2 separate regions of the Homo sapiens genome follow, and region 2 is linked to region 1. The links come from fine-mapping of genetic effects on gene expression. Tissue or cell type: sun-exposed skin. Region 1 holds a variant in brackets; the other region holds the start of a gene. All regions are shown on one strand. Distances are from middle to middle.

Evidence for each region. PIP is the estimated chance that this variant, and not a neighbour inherited with it, causes the effect.
Region 2: KLKB1 starts here. The variant in region 1 is fine-mapped to the expression of KLKB1 in sun-exposed skin (GTEx, PIP 0.93).

Annotation. Positions count from the first base shown.
Region 1 is chr4:186,272,036-186,280,141 of GRCh38, forward strand. It overlaps F11 (coagulation factor XI), which reads left to right. Exons shown (of 15, transcript NM_000128.4): 4 at 1,036-1,142; 5 at 2,081-2,240; 6 at 3,752-3,861; 7 at 4,196-4,355; 8 at 7,977-8,086. Among named protein-coding and RNA genes, the nearest start is that of F11, 9.9 kb to the left of the region's middle. The variant C/T (reference allele first, on the strand shown) is at 3,391.
Region 2 is chr4:186,223,073-186,231,178 of GRCh38, forward strand. It overlaps KLKB1 (kallikrein B1), which reads left to right and starts at 4,435. Exons shown (of 15, transcript NM_000892.5): 1 at 4,435-4,515; 2 at 5,123-5,181. The coding sequence starts at 5,124. RefSeq lists an enhancer at 2,942-3,612.

The DNA.
Region 1 (8,106 bases):
ACTTCTTAAACATTTCACACTTTGCTTTTCTATCGATTATTAATTTTTGTCGTGCTTCTCAACAAACTGGAACTTCTCCCAACTATTTTATTAGAAAAAAATAAAATATTTAAAAAGAAAATTTGAAAAAAAGTACAGTACAGTGATCCCCCTGCCACCACCAAAACCGCAATGTTTGCTATATTTGTACAGCAATATACAATATACAATACCTATATTTGTATACATGTTTAACCGTTTGAAATAATTTTAAAACATGACACTTTACCCCTAAATACTTCAGCATGCACTATCCTACACAAAAGACATACGAAATTTAACAAGAATTCCTTTATATTATTTCAGTTTTCCCTCAAATATAATTTATAGTAATTAACCAGAATCTTACCAAGAGTCACTCACTGCATTGGGTGGTTTGTCAGGTTTAAAACATTTTAAACAGTCCACCAACCATTTGTATTCCCATCCTGAGCTTGAAAATTTAATAATAAGCCTTTCTGTAGAATTAAGTTTTCAACATCTTTATTATTGCTACATTCACAGGCATTTATGTAGCACCCAGAACTTATAAAATTTACTATTCCAGAACCTAGAGCAGGGATTGGCAAATGTCTTCTTAATAACGCAGAGTAAATATGTTAGGCTTTGTGGGCAAAACCCACAGTAAAGCCAAGGATATTATTTAAGTATTTATGTCACCACTTAAAATGTAACAATTTGAAAATATAAAAATCATTTTGTATAGCTAACAGGCTAAACAGAAACACACAGATTTTTGGTTGCATTTTACCAACAGGTCCTAGTTGACACATTCCTGTTTGTTCCTATTAGAAAGGAGTATTACATGCAGTCTCTTAAGTGTAGGGATATTGAAGTAAAAAACAAACTCAGAATCTTGCTAAGAAAATATTTGTTTTGGCATGAGATAAAGTAGTTTGTTTCCTTCTTTTTGGCTTTCTGTGTGCTGACTTTTAAGATCCATTATTTTAAAAACATAAATTCCTATTCATTAATATGTATTTTTTAAAAAAACAGGTTTACTTGTGTCCTGAAAGACAGTGTTACAGAAACACTGCCAAGAGTGAATAGGACAGCAGCGATTTCTGGGTATTCTTTCAAGCAATGCTCACACCAAATAAGCGGTAAGATATGTTCTCAGAATCAACAAATACCAGCTGTGATGTACACATATCGCCACATCGGATGTGGTTTTAAGGCTATGAAATGAAACACTGCTATGTGGAAATAAACCCCCTTAATGAAGTTCTTTCAGTGTAGAGTATAAACTAGTATACATACATGCCTGCCCTCCAACACACTGTAAAAACCTCTTTACCTCATAGAAAGACATATCTTACTACCTCACTTCCCATCATTTATTTATATTCTTTCTATTTCCCAGCCTAAAATCTTAAATGAAAGTCTTTTTTTTTTTGAGACAGGGTCTCACTCTGTTGTCCAGGCTGGAGTGCAGTGGTGCAATCACAGCTCACTCCAGCCTCAACCTCCTGGGTTCAAGTGATCTTCCTGCCTTAGCCTCTGGAGTAGCTGGGACCAGAGGCATGCACCAACATTCCCAGCTAATTTGTTCATTTTTCCTAGAGACAGGGTCTCACTGTATTGCCCAGGCTGGTCTCAAACTCTTGGCCTCAAGTGATCTGCCCGCCTCGGCCTTCCAGAGTGCCGGGATTCCATGGTGCCCAGTCGAAATTCTTTATTAAACGTATTAATCCAAATTGAAAGGAGCAAATATAAAGGTTGAAGTGACACTTGTCTTAATAGTGAATAGATACTTGAATCAGTTAATTAGCGAAATAATCAGTGCAGTTAGGGAGAAGAGAGGCTAGGTCAGAAAATCAAAATGTGAATTTACAAGTCTAAAATTGTTACAGTGTAAGAAGGACATTGGCATTCTTTTACTGCTTCCATTCAAGAATAAGAATTTTGCAGATTAATATAACGAAAGACCTCTGAGGAAAGGTGGGTGAAAAAGTTGAAAGGATGAGTCAGGAGGGACAGTTGCTTAGGTCATTGCCCCTAGAATCTGGAAGGTACTCATGTCTTCTGCTTTTATTTCCAGCTTGCAACAAAGACATTTATGTGGACCTAGACATGAAGGGCATAAACTATAACAGCTCAGTTGCCAAGAGTGCTCAAGAATGCCAAGAAAGATGCACGGATGACGTCCACTGCCACTTTTTCACGTACGCCACAAGGCAGTTTCCCAGCCTGGAGCATCGGTGAGTGAGTCCCAGGACATTCGAGTGGTCGATGAAAAACAGAATCGTGATTTACTAAAAAGCTTTTGCCATCAACTTTATGCCAGAATTTATTTTGAACCCCTAAAAGACATTTCTATAATAGTACTCCTAGTTTTCTTCATGAAAAATACACTTAAAGCCTAATTTGGATGCATTTCATTTATGGTAAGGAGTCTATCTTTTAATAACACTGTCAGAAAAATATATATACTTGGCTAATTTCAAAAGCGCTACACTTTTAAATTGGCACTTTTGAAACAGCTGCAATTGGTATGATTGTCAGTGCCCTTCCCAGTCTAAAAAATGTTACAGTCTAACAGAATAAAAATAAAAACCTACTCTCTCTCTCTCTAAATAACAGTTCCTTACCTAAGACAAAATACTCATGTAAAAAGTCTTATCCTGCTCCATACTGGATTTTGAAATATTTCAAGGATAAATCTATCACATAAGGATTTAAAAATTATCTGATCTCTAATAACCAAATCTGTGTTCTCATCTTTAAAAATTTACTAGGGAAATAGATTATTAATTTGTATATTCAGAAATATTTGAGATGATTTAGATTTTCATAGTAAACTGCATTTATCTGGAATCAACAGAAAAGTGAAAAACATTCAAATTACTAATACTTGCGTTTTAACATTGGATTTTAACATTCTGCTCTCCACATTCACAAAGAGGAGTGAACAGAAAGCAAACAAAGCATCAACGAGTTATTTCAAAAACAACAGTGGTGAAAAACACACACACCAAACCCCTAAATTCATGATTTGACTTGTAAGGCTTATCTTTAGCTCAGCTCAGACGACAGCTTTTATGTCTAAGACTTAACAGAATGTGAACTGCAAGACAAGAAATTGGAGGTTTCTAAGCAAGATAAAGTTAAGTCATTAAAAGTAAGAAGGACTTAGCCAGGCGCGGTGGCTCACACCTGTAATCCCAGCACTTTGGGAGGCCGAGGCGGGCAGATCACCTGAGGTCAGGAGTTCGACACCAGCCTGACCAATATGGTGAAACCCCGTCTCTACTAAAAAAGAATACAAAAATTAGCCAGGCGCGGTGGTGGGCGCTTGTAATCCCAGCTACTTGGGAGGCTGAGACAAGAGAATCGCTTGAACCCAGGAGG[C/T]GGAGGTTGCAGTGAGCCAAGATCGTGCCATTGCACTCCAACCTGGGCAACAGAGTGAGACTCCGTCTCAAATAAAAAAAAACAAAAAATGAGAAGGGCTTGAGAAGTCATTCATTCATGCACTCTCCTTCTTCATGTGGTCACTCTCTCAAGCTGTCATTATACTGAAGAAGAAATAAACTTACACAATTCACAGGTGCTTAGCAACACTGCTGGGACCATGCCCAGCCATTCAGCCTCCCAGATGGATGCTTCGGGGTCTCGCAGGTCCTCTCTCCAAAGGGGACTTTCTTAATATCTCATGTTTTTTCCTCCTTGCAGTTGGAAGAATAAGACACTTTTCCTTTTTCTTTTTATTCAGTAACATTTGTCTACTGAAGCACACCCAAACAGGGACACCAACCAGAATAACGAAGCTCGATAAAGTGGTGTCTGGATTTTCACTGAAATCCTGTGCACTTTCTAATCTGGGTAATTATCGACTTCTTGATGATGTAATTCAACCATTAAATATGCTGATGATTACAGTAGATCTCACTCAGGATACCAGCTTATGCTCACGATGAAACGGACCCAAAGATCTTTACCTTCTTCATGTGATAGATTTCATCATGTCCTATACAGTTAGATCCTCTATTTAAATTTCCAGTTTAAAATAATCATGCCATTTTCTTCTAAATAAAAAAAAATTAAAAGATCTTGGGATACACTTAAATTTTTTAATATGGAATTTACACATACTGTGACCGGAATTTTCCTGATAGCTGGTGAATTGAGTCCCTGACATAGTTCTTCCGTCGCGCAGCTTGTATTAGGGACATTTTCCCTAATACGGTGTTTGCAGACAGCAACATCGACAGTGTCATGGCTCCCGATGCTTTTGTCTGTGGCCGAATCTGCACTCATCATCCCGGTTGCTTGTTTTTTACCTTCTTTTCCCAGGAATGGCCCAAAGAATCTCAAAGGTAAGGAGTTAACAAGTAAGGATAATTTGTTATCTTCTAAAAATAGCTGATCAAAATCCATCATTAAAAATTCCAAGTAACTAAAAATTTACTCTAAATGTCAGTATAGGATAAAAGTTGCAAAGAATTTCTAGCCCCTCTCCCTTTCTATTCCCCACCTACTTACCACAAACCCAACATTACCGAGGACTCTTTTTTTTTTTTTTTTTTTTTTGAGATGGAGTCTCGCTCTGCTGCCCAGGCTGGAGTGCGGTGGCATGATTTCAGCTCACTGCAACCTTCGCCTCCCAGGTCCAAGCGATTCTCCTGCCTCAGCCTCCTGAGTAGCTGGGACTACAGGCATGGGACACCACGCCCAGTAATTTTTTTTGTATTTTTAGTAGAGATGGGGTTTCACCATGTTGGCCAGGCTGGTCTCAAACTCCTGACTTCAGGTGATCCACCTGCCTCGGCCTCCCAAAGTGCTGAGATTACAGGGTTGGGCCACCGTGCCCGGCCAGTAAATTTTAAAATAAATATAAATATTACTTCACCTAAATAAATTTTAGGTACAGGTACAGTTGTGTTACATGGATATACTGTGTAGTGGTGAAGTCTGGGCTTTCAGTGTAGCCAAATAGTATACATTATTCCCATTAGATAATTTCTCCTGCCTCACCCTCCTCTATCCTCCCAACTCTCTGAGTCTCCAATAGCTTTCATTCCACTGTCTCTGTGCCTGTGTACACTTTATTTAGCTCCCACTTAAAAGTGAGAATCTACAATATTTGACTTTCTGTTTCTGAGTTGTTTCACTTGAGATAATAGCCTCCAGTTCTATCCATGTTGCTGCAAAAGATATGATTTTATGATTTTTTTATGGCTAAGTAACATTCTATAGTATATTCTATACACCACATTTTCTTTATCCATTCATTTGCTGATAGACTCTTAGGTTGATCCATATCTTTGTTATTGTGAATAGTGCTGCAGTAAACATGTGAGTGTAGGTATCTTTGTGACATGATTTTTTTTTCTTTCTTTTCCTTTGGCTATGTACCCAGTAGTGGGATTGCTGGAGGTCTCCACCTTGGCAAAGGGGCAGTTGTCTAGTTCTAAATGAAATGAAGAGATTCCATTTCCATTTCATGACAACTAAAAGACAATTCAGTCCAATGCTTTGTTTAAAATAATTGAACCAGGAACAGAAAGAGCTGAAAATGTCAGTGAAATGTCAAACCCAAAGTGGAGAGAGAGAGAGAGGTGGAAATGAATGTCTCCATCAAGTGGGTTAGGGTGGTGGTGGAGGGAGGTTTGAGAATTGAGTCCCTGTTTCCTTACCAATGGAAATTAACATAGGACATCAGAAACAGCATGGAAAATTTCTTTGATTATCAAAAGTACACTAGCTAAGGTTGCTGTCCCTCTTTTATTTATTTATTTATTTGAGACAGGGTCTTGCTCTGTCACTCAGATTTGGTTGCACTGGGTGTGATCTCAGCCCACTGCAGCCTCCACTTCCTAGGCTCAAGCAATCCACCCGTCTCATCCTCCCAAGTTGCTGGGACCACAGGTGTGCACCACCACCCCCAGCTAATGTTTGTTTTTTTGTAGAGACAGAGTTTCGCCATGTTGGCCAGGCTGGTCTAGAACTCCTGGCCTCAAGCAATCCACCTGCCTTGGTCTCCCACAGTGCAGGGATTACAAGCCTGAGCCACTATGCCCAGCTTGCTATTCCTCATTGACAACATTCACTTAAACAAGCAAACAAATATCCGTAAAATTAAGTCAGCTTTAAAACCTGGCTTGTATATATCTCTGAATTGGAACTCTCAGAGCCCTCAGCACTTGCCTGATTGGCCTCCTGTTGATGAAAAGTTGTCCTCCAGACAACTCAGCCAAGGGAGGCCCTGTGTGCCTTGCCTATCACATGAGCCTCACTTTCCACTGAGTGAGGCTGTCATTTCAGAAGCACCGGGTCTGTCACATGAAAATATATCTGTTACCATCACTTACTAAACAAATTTAGTAGAATTTGTTTGGTGCTTATTATGTATCAGGCATTGTTCTGAAGGCTGGGGATACCATTTAGTGAACTAAATCGACAAAAACTTTGCCTATTGGACCAGAGTGGAGATGAGAGAGAAGTGACCAGATCGATCTGTGTTATCAGCAGACAGCCAATAAGATTTGCTGATAGGTTGGACCACGGATTGTGAAGGAGTCAGTGATAGCACCAAGACTTTTGGCCCAAGGAACTGGAAAGATGGAAATGTCAATGACAGAATGTGGAGGATTTCGCAAGCAGCAGAGTGTAGGAGAAGCAATGCCCTTGGCTCATCTAGGGCAAAGGGTTGAATTGGCAACTGGAAATAGAAGTCAAATTCAGAAGAGAGGTTTATGTGGACATCTGTGTTTAGGTGTCACCAATATACAGCTGATACTTTTTAAAAATCTAGTGAAATTATCAAAGGGTTAAATGCAGAGAGGGAAGAAAGTAGGTCCAAAGATCAAGCCTTGGGACATTGGAAGTTTAGAAATAAGAAAGATGTCATTGTCACTTGTAATTTTGTGCTAGTCACTGCTCTTTTTCTTTGTCTTATTACCTTACTGACCAATTCCTAGAATAGGAATAACACATTTGATCTTTAATACAGTATGTGATAGGAACATGGCTTCTATAAGCCCAAACTTGGCAATTTAAATTTAAATTTATTAAAATTAAATAAAACTGGCTGGGTGCAGTGGCTCACGCCTGTAATCCCAGCACTTTGGGAGGCCGAGGCGGTGAATCACGAGGTCAGGAGTACGAGACCATCCTGGCCAACATGGTGAAACCCCGTCTCTACTAAAAATACAAAAGTTAGCCAGGTGTGGTGGCATGTGCCTGTAATCCCAGCTACTCAAGAGGCTGAGGCAGGAGAATCACTTGAACCCGGGAGGCGGAGGTTGCAGTGAGCCAAGATCGCGACACTGCACTCCAGCCTGGGTGACAAGAGAAAGACTATGTCTCAAAAAAAAAAAAAATTTTAAATAAAACTAAAAATTCACCTTCCCAGCTGTGTTAGCCACATTTCAAGTGCCCAATAGCCACATGTAGTTGGCAGTTACTGTATTGGATGGCACAGGCATAGAATATTTCCATCACTGCAGAAAGATCTATGGACAGTCTTGCTCTAGACTGTGATTTTGTCTACTTAGGAAAAGTCACTCTTTTCCAGGAAGATGCTTCCAGGGTGTGGAGTAAACGACGGACTTCACCCATCTCCTTATAAACCTATTGCAACCCTGGATAGGAGGTTTCTAGGTAGCATGAAGACTCTTGAATCTTTAAGATAGGCTGGGAGTGTTGAAAGGAAGGAAATGAAAAGGGAAGATACTAGGAAGACTGACAATAGAGCAAGCTCAGAAAATTTTTATGGAGGTGATTTAGTTAGAAAATTTGTCTGCAACCTAAGGGCCATGGAGTGTGACTCCATGGTTTATGGGTGTAACTCCGTGGTTTATGAAGAGTACTTTCAAAATAGGAAAATCTTCACAACTAAGTGCTAGCATGAGCTGACTTTACTTTCTCTAGGTGCTGTAAAAATGTTTTTATGTGTTTGATATGATATATTTCTACTTCCCTTTTGTTTTTGTTAGAAATCTTTGTCTCCTTAAAACATCTGAGAGTGGATTGCCCAGTACACGCATTAAAAAGAGCAAAGCTCTTTCTGGTTTCAGTCTACAAAGCTGCAGGCACAGCATCCCAGGTAAACTGAGAGTTCTGCAT
Region 2 (8,106 bases), 49 kb before region 1:
CTGCCTTGTGAAGAAGGTACCTGCTTCCCCTTCACCTTCCACCATAATTGTAAGTTTCCTGAGGCCTCCCCAGCCATGAGGAACTGTGAGTCATTTAGACCTCTTTTGTTTATAAATTACCCAGTCTCAGGTGATATCTTTTAGCAGTGTGAAAATAAACAATACAGAGAATTGGTACTGGCAGAGTGAGGTACTGCTATAAAGACAACCTGAAAATGTGAAGGCAACTTTGAAACTGGGTAACAGGCAGAGGTTGGAACAGTTTGGAGGGCTTAGAAGATAGGAAGATGTGGGAAAGTTTGAAACTTCCTAGAGACTTGTTGAATGGTTTTGACCAAAATGCTGATAGTCGTATTGACAATGAAGTCCAGGCTGAGATGGTCTCAGATGGAGACGAGAAACTATTGGGAACTGGAGCAAAGGCCATTCTTGCTATGCTTTAGCAGAGACTGGCAGCATTTTGCCCCTGCCCTAGAGATCTGTGGAGCTTTGAACTTGAGAGAGATGATTTAGGGTATCTGTCAGAATAAATTTCTAAGCAGAAAAGCATTCAAATATAACCTGGCTTTTTCTGAAAGCATACAGTCAAGTCATATGCGTTCACAAAGAGATGGTATGAAATTGGAACTTATGTTTAAAAGGGAAGCAAAGCATAAAAGTTTGGAAATTTTGCAGCCTGACCATGTGGTAGAAAAGAAAAACCAATTTTCTGAGGAGGAATTCAAGCCGGCTGCAGAAATTTACATAAGTAATCAGGAGCTGAATGTTAATTGCCAAACAATGGGGAAATGTCTCCAGGGCATTTCAGAGGTCTTCAAGGCAGCCCCTCCCATTACAAGCCCAGAGGCCTAGGAGGGAAAAATGGTTTCATGGGCCCTGCTGCTCTGTGCAGCCTTGGGACTTGGTGCCCTGTGCCCCAGCCACTCCAGCTCCAGCTGTGACTAAAAGGGTCCATAGCTCAGGCTGTCGCTTCAAGGGTGCAAGCCCCAAGCCTTGGTGGCTTCCACGTGCTCTTGGGTCTGCGAGTTCACAGAAAACAAGAGCTGAGCTTTGAGAGCCTCTGCCTAGATTTCACAGGATGTGTGGAAACACCTGGCTGTCCAGGCAGAAGCCTGCTGCAGGGACCCAGCCCTCATGGAGAACCTCTATTAGGGCAGTGCAGAGGTGAACTGTGGGGTTGGAGCCCACACACAGAGACCCCACTGGAGCACTGCCCAGTGGAGCTGTGAAAAGAGTTCCCCCATCTTCCAGATGCCAGAATGGTAGATCCACTGACTGGAAAGTTGCAGGCACTCAGTGCCGGCCCATGAAGGCAGCCGTAGGGGCTGTACCCTGCAAAGCCACAGGGACAGAGCTGCCCAAGGCCTTAACAGCCCACACCTTGCATCAGCATGCCCTGGGTGTGAGACAGGGGCTCCAAGGAGATTATTTTGGAGCTTTAAAATTTAATGACTTCCCTGCTAGGTTTTGCATATGCTTGGGACCTGTGGCCCCTTTATTTTGGCCAATTTCTCCCATTTGGAATGGGAACATTTACCCAATTCCTGTACCCACATTGTGTTTTGGAAGTAACTAACTTGTTTTTTATTTTAAAGGCTCATTGAGGGAAGGGACTTGCCTTGTCTCAAATGAGACTTTGGACTCGGACTTTTGGGTTACTGTGGAATGAGTTAAGACTTTGGGGGACTGTTGGAAAGACATCATTGGTTTTGAAATCTGAAAAGGACATGAGATTTGGGAAAGGCCAGGGGAAGAATGATATGGTTTGGCTCTGTGTCCTCATCCAAATCTCGTCTTGAATTGTAATCCCCACATGGGATTACATGGGAGGGGCCTGGTGAGAGGTGATTGGATCATGGAGGTGGTTTCCCCTGTGCTGTGATCTCATGATAGTGAGGGATTTAAAAGTGACAGTTTCCCCTGCACATACACACTCTCTCTCTCGTATCACCTTGTGAAGAAGGTGTCTGCTTCCCCTCTGCCTTCCATCGTGATTATAAGTTTCCTGAGGCCTCCCCAGCCATGGGTAACTGTGAGTCAGTTAAACCTCTTTTGTTTATAAATTACCCAGTCTCAGGTAGTATCTTTACAGCAGTGTGAAACTGGACTAATACATCTGGGAAATTCTTTTTGTCTCCTTCCTTTCTGAAGGACAGCTTTGCCTGATATTATATTCTTGGTTGCCAGGTTTTGTACTTTCAATACTTTGAATATATCATCCCACTCTCTCTTGGCCTACATGATTTCTGCTGAGAAATCCACCAATAATCTTATGAAGCTTCCCTTGTATGTGAAGAATTGCTTTTCTCTTGCTTCTTTGAAAATTCTCTCTTTGTCATGGTGAGGATTTCTTTTTTTTTTTTTTTTTTTTAGATGGAGTCTAGCTCTGTTGTCCAGGCTGGAGTGCAGTGTGCAGTGGCGCAATCTCGGCTCACTGCAAGCTCCGTCTCCTGGGTTCACACCATTTTCCTGTCTCAGCCTCTGGAGTAGCTGAGACTACAGGTGCCCACCACCACGCCTGGCTAAATTTTTTTTGTATTTTTAGTAGAGATGGGGTTTCACTGTGTTAGCCAGGATGGTCTCGATCTCCTGACCTCATGATCCACCCATCTTGGCCTCCCAAAGTGCTGGGATTACAGGCATGAGCCACTGCACCTGGCCGAGGATCTCTTTATATTTAATCTATTTGGAGTTCTTTTGGGCTTCATAAATCTGGATGTTTATTTCATTTATGTCTCCAAATTTTGAGAGTTTTCTATTCTTATTTTTTTAAATAAGTTTCTGCAACTTTCTCTTTCTCTACTTCTTCTGGAACTCTTCTAATGCATATTAATTTTCTTAACAGTGTCCTATAAGTCTTGTCAGCTTTCTGCAATTTTTATCATTCCTTTTATTACTCTGACTGGGTAATTTCAAATGACCTGTATCTGAGCATGCTGATTCTTTCTCCTGCTTGATCTAGTCTGCTGCTGAAGCTGTTTGTGAATTTTTTCAATTCAGTCATTTTGTTCTTTAGCTCCAGAATTTCTGTTTCATTCTTTTTTATGGTTCCTATCTATCTTTTTGTTGAACTTCTAATTTTGCTCATGTATTGTTTTCCTGATTTTGTTTACTGTCTATCTATATTGTTTTGTAGCTTATTGAGCTTTCTTAAGGCAATTATTTTTAGCTCTTGTCATGCAGTAAAGATCTCCATTTCTTTAGGGTCACCTCCTGCTGCTTTATTTCCTTCCTTTGGTGGTTTCTTGTTTCCCCGATTATTTGTGATCAGTGTGGCCTTGCACTGAAGTAGGCACCTATTTCAGTCTTTACATACTAGCTTCAGCAGAGAAAGCCATTCACTAGTCAGATTGACCAGAGATTGTTGGTGGGCTGTCTGTTGGGGTCTATGCACAGGATTTCTGCTGGAGTTCTAAGGTGGGAAGGGCTGGATTCTGGGTTCATTCACTGTGGTTGTCTGTATTCTGTGCACAAGGACTGGCTTGAAGCATGGATCCTTGGGGGCTGACTTGGCACTGAAATGAGCCTTAAGCCTGCGTCTGCAGGGGCCAGCCTAACATGGGGATCACCTGGCACCTGAGTTCATGGGGATAGGCCTGTTCCTGAGTTTATTCAGGCTGTCCTGGGAACAAGGTCCACTGGGGTGAGCCCAGCATCTGGGTCCACATGGCCCAGCATGGAGCCAAGATCTCTGGAGGCTGACCTGGTGCTGGATCTGCAGGGGATGGCCTGGATTCTAGGCCCATGGGTGCCAACTTGGAGCCTGGGGTTGCTGGGGCTAACGTGGAGGCTAGATAGAGTCTTGGGGGCCAGGCTAGAGCTGGAGCAGGCCTGAAGTCTAGGTTTTGTGTGGCCATCTTGGAGCCTGAAGCCCCAGGGGCTGACCTGGTCTGGGGTGAGCATGGGGCTGAGGCCACAGAGGCTGGTCTGGCCTGTGGCAGGCCTGAATCCTGGTGCTGGGGTTTACTGGAGTGGGCTTGGTGCTTGGGATCTGTGGTGAAGTTAGGTTCTATCTTAACTGTCCCTCCTCCATGCAAGAGGGCATCTCTCTCCATACTGTGCTGCCCAGGCTTGAAGGTGAGATGACACCGGTAATGTGAAATTGTCCTTCCTATACACTTCTATGTGTCTTTTCTTATTTCTGTGCTGCAACCAGGTGGCATAACCTCTCACCTGATTCCTTAGCTCTAGTGAAGTTATTTTCGTGCATGGATACTTGTTCGAATTGATGTTTCTGCAAGGGATGAGCGCTAGAAACTCCTGTTCTGACAAACTCCTATTCCTATTCTTGCTGACATCACTCCCTGAAATAGTTAATATACTTAACAGCTGAACACGGATAGGATGTTCATGGAATATGTTGACAGGACAAAAAGTTGAAACTGTTGGCAGAAACCCAAAGTCAATATTGAAGCCAAGCAAAATATTGCCTGCAGTGCCACATTAGAACAGCTTGAAGACCGTTCATTTTTAAGTGACAAGAGACTCACCTCCAAGAAGCAATTGTGTTTTCAGGTAGCAAATTTTTATTATTCTGATTGTTTCCAAATAAACTATAATTTTTAAGTATAATTTTTTACTTTATGAGAAAATTAATCATTTATATTCTAATTTCCTGAGTATGTAGAGAGTATAGATAATGTTCCTTTATGTAGAAATATTTAAATGTAAGATGATTTTAAATCAGAAAGAATATTTGATTGATTTAAAATTTTTAAATGGGCTTTAATATTTTCAGAGGTTTTCTTTACTTAGGGATTTTTGGACTGACATTATTGCCATTATTTATTAATTTTGTTTTTGCCCAAATCAAGAGGTTTCATAATTGTTTACTCTCTCTCTACCAATTCCCTTTCCAACATTACTAGCCACAGAGTTGGCCAATGAACAATAAACACAACAGTAGTCTGGAGGTCTCAATTTGTATCTTGGGAAGCATTATAAATTTTCCAACTCCCTAGACACAAATGTACCAAAAAAAAACCCTTGTTTTCTATACCAGTAATTGTGTGCTTTGTCTTGCAATTCAGACATTTACAAGAAAATCTAAATCACCTTAAATTAAGATTTATGTTAAATGTGGTCTAAAACCAGCAGAGTTATGTATTGTTTTCTTTTTTAGAATGATTTTATTCAAGCAAGCAACTTATTTCATTTCCTTGTTTGCTACAGTTTCCTGTGGTAAGTGAATTATCTATAAAACATGGAATTCAGGCTAAGACAGGAGTAGCCAAGCAAGTGGCACCACCCCTGGAGAAAGCTATTGAACATACAGCTTCGGGGGTGGAGATTGTCCCTGATGATTCAGGACACGTGTCTATTTAATGTTCCACAACAAGGACCACTTGTCAGGTATATTGCTGTAGACATATGTTGCAGACCAGAGGAAGGAGCTCAGAAGTAGGAATGTCTTGGGACTTGTGTTAACAAAAACTTCTGTTCGCAGATGACACTCTGCAAAGCAAAACTTGAAACAAAAAAAAATTAGTCCTCTATTTTTATTATCAACAGTAAAAAATTAAACTTTATCTGAAAATTCAAAAGAGTGCTAGGCATTTTATAGTGTCTGGGTCCAATCCAAGTATCTGTTAGGAACACCATACATAGTTTTACTCTGGACCGCTAGGGAACCATTTCAAAAATGAAAGTAACTGGTTTAAATTTAACTTAGCAAACCATGCATTTGGATAGTTCTAGGTGAATAGCTTTCAACACCAGATTTAGATCTCATTTCTCTATTAATTTCATTAATTTTTGGAGAATAAAAATGATTCTGGACATTTCATTAATCATTACAGAGGGAGTTTTCTCTGTGTCCCCACAAGGCATGATTCTGGGTCTATGGTGACTTAAGAGGGCCACACAACAATGAGTATTTAATTTTCCTCAGATGTATGGCTACAATAAACATCTATAGGTAAGGTTTACATTCATAAAGAGACCTTTTTTTTTCCAGGAAAAAAGACTTTTATTCCCCCTAAATCACAACTCCCCTGTGTCTGTCCCTCAACCCTGATTTCTCTTCTAAACCGTAATTTACAAACCCATGTGCAAACCCACTGAAAGGTGAGAAGGAGCATAAGCCAGAGACACTGGGAACCACAGCCAACTACAGGGGGTTTTTCATTTTTTTGTTTTGTTTTGTTTTTTGGCAAAATAAATCATGATTATGGCTAGGAAAATCAGGGATGTAAGTAAGCAAAAATTTAGAAACTACATATTGCATGTAGTCCCCAAATTCAGAAACAGTCATCGTTAAACATCTTTTATTTAGTCTTTCAGATATTTTTCTACATATACCTATTTGCACATTTCACAAAAAAGAGTTATTAACTGTGGACACTCTTTGACTTGCATTTTCCACTTATAGCTATCTTTTGGTGCAAATAAGTAATATATTTTGGAGCTTGCTATTCTTCTCTTTTTATGGTATTTTTGTGTGCACATTCTTATGCTCTTATTCAGTTATTTCTGTAGAATACAATTTTTGAAATAAAAATACTAGATTCAAAGGTGTGAATATTTTTGAAGGTTTTGTGGTGTGGTATCATGAAATTAGGTTTCAGAAAGTTTACTCCATAGTTGACTTTTTCTACCAGCTAATAAGAGTGCTCATTTACCCCACTTAGGCCAACTCTAACAGGCTTCTGTTGCTTTGCATCCTGACATATTTATCTTTCTGGAAACAGTGTCCTAATTTATTTCTGCAGAGCTACTGCCTCTCAGTTTTGGTCCATGTGGTTCTGGTGACCCTGATTCTTCTGCTGAACCAGAAAGTGCACACATCCTCCTGGCTGTGGTGACCCAATCAGAGCCAACGTCTTGCAATGAAGCTTTTCTTTAGACATCTAGAAATAAGACTCTTATGTTTTTTTTTTCCAATTTGACTTGAAACTTAAGACAATACACAGGCCTGAGTTGTTGGTACTATTTTGCTACTACGTGGAGCTTGAGAGTAATGGTAACACCAAGACTGGAGCAAGTGGAAGGAGACATATTGTCCACTGATGCTATCAGTTGAGCACAATGTGCAGTTACTTTTTAAGCCAGATTCACCATGGGCTTTTTGGCTCCTGAACCAATAGATTTCATTTGTTTTCAAGCCACTTTGTACTAGGTTTTCCATCATTTGCAATCAAAACCAGTATACAAACACTGGTTATTTAATTTTTCATTTTTGCTAATCTCAGGGATAAAATGGCTTCTAGTTGTTTTAACTTGGCTATATTTGTGATTCTTCCCATTTTCATATACTTACTAATCACTTCTATTTCTTTTGTAAATTATCTTTTCATATTTGTTATCTAATTCTTTAAAATTTGAGTACTTTAATTCTCATTATTGTTTGTGGAATTGTTAAACAAGACTGAATAATCTGCCCAAAGTCCATGGACATGGGGGCCCATGTAAAAGCTTTGAAAGCCACCATCATTATGAGATAAATTATATAATAGTACTTTACATAGGCTCCAAAATACAGCACAGACACAGCTATCATTGTCATGGTCATCATTATCATCATGATCACCAACTTATGAGGATAAGCAAGAACACCTACTAGAAGTTTCTTTCCATTCAGCAACAAAATTGGTGTCTTTCTAGTCACTCCCTTCCCTGACTGTCACATAGCAGTTCACAGAGGCTCAGTTGCAGAATGAGAAGCTCTGGGCCAGGACCTGCCATTGTATGCATCCTTGCATGGGAACTGGGGGCTGGAAGAGGAGTGACTGCTTGATAATTATGAGTCAGTCAAAACCACCAACTGTCTGAAAAAAATAGGCCTTTTTGTAACTAGTATTGTCACTAAACCAACTCCTCCATGTTTTGTGCATACATGAAATCTAGGCAATACACTTGTATTCCCAAAAGCTTCCACTTGAAGAGATCTGTGCTCTTTCCAAATATAAACCTTACCCGAGAGGTGGTCATCTTGGCCACACCTCAGAGAGGGAGAGAGGCAGTCTTGTTGGGTTGGGTGGTCATAATGGGGCTCAGGGCCAAATCCCCAGGGGGTAGGATAGTGCAGAGAAGATGGCACTCTCCAGTGCTTAATAAAATGCACGTGGTCTAAGCTGCCCACTCCCTCAAAGGCAATAAAAAATAGGT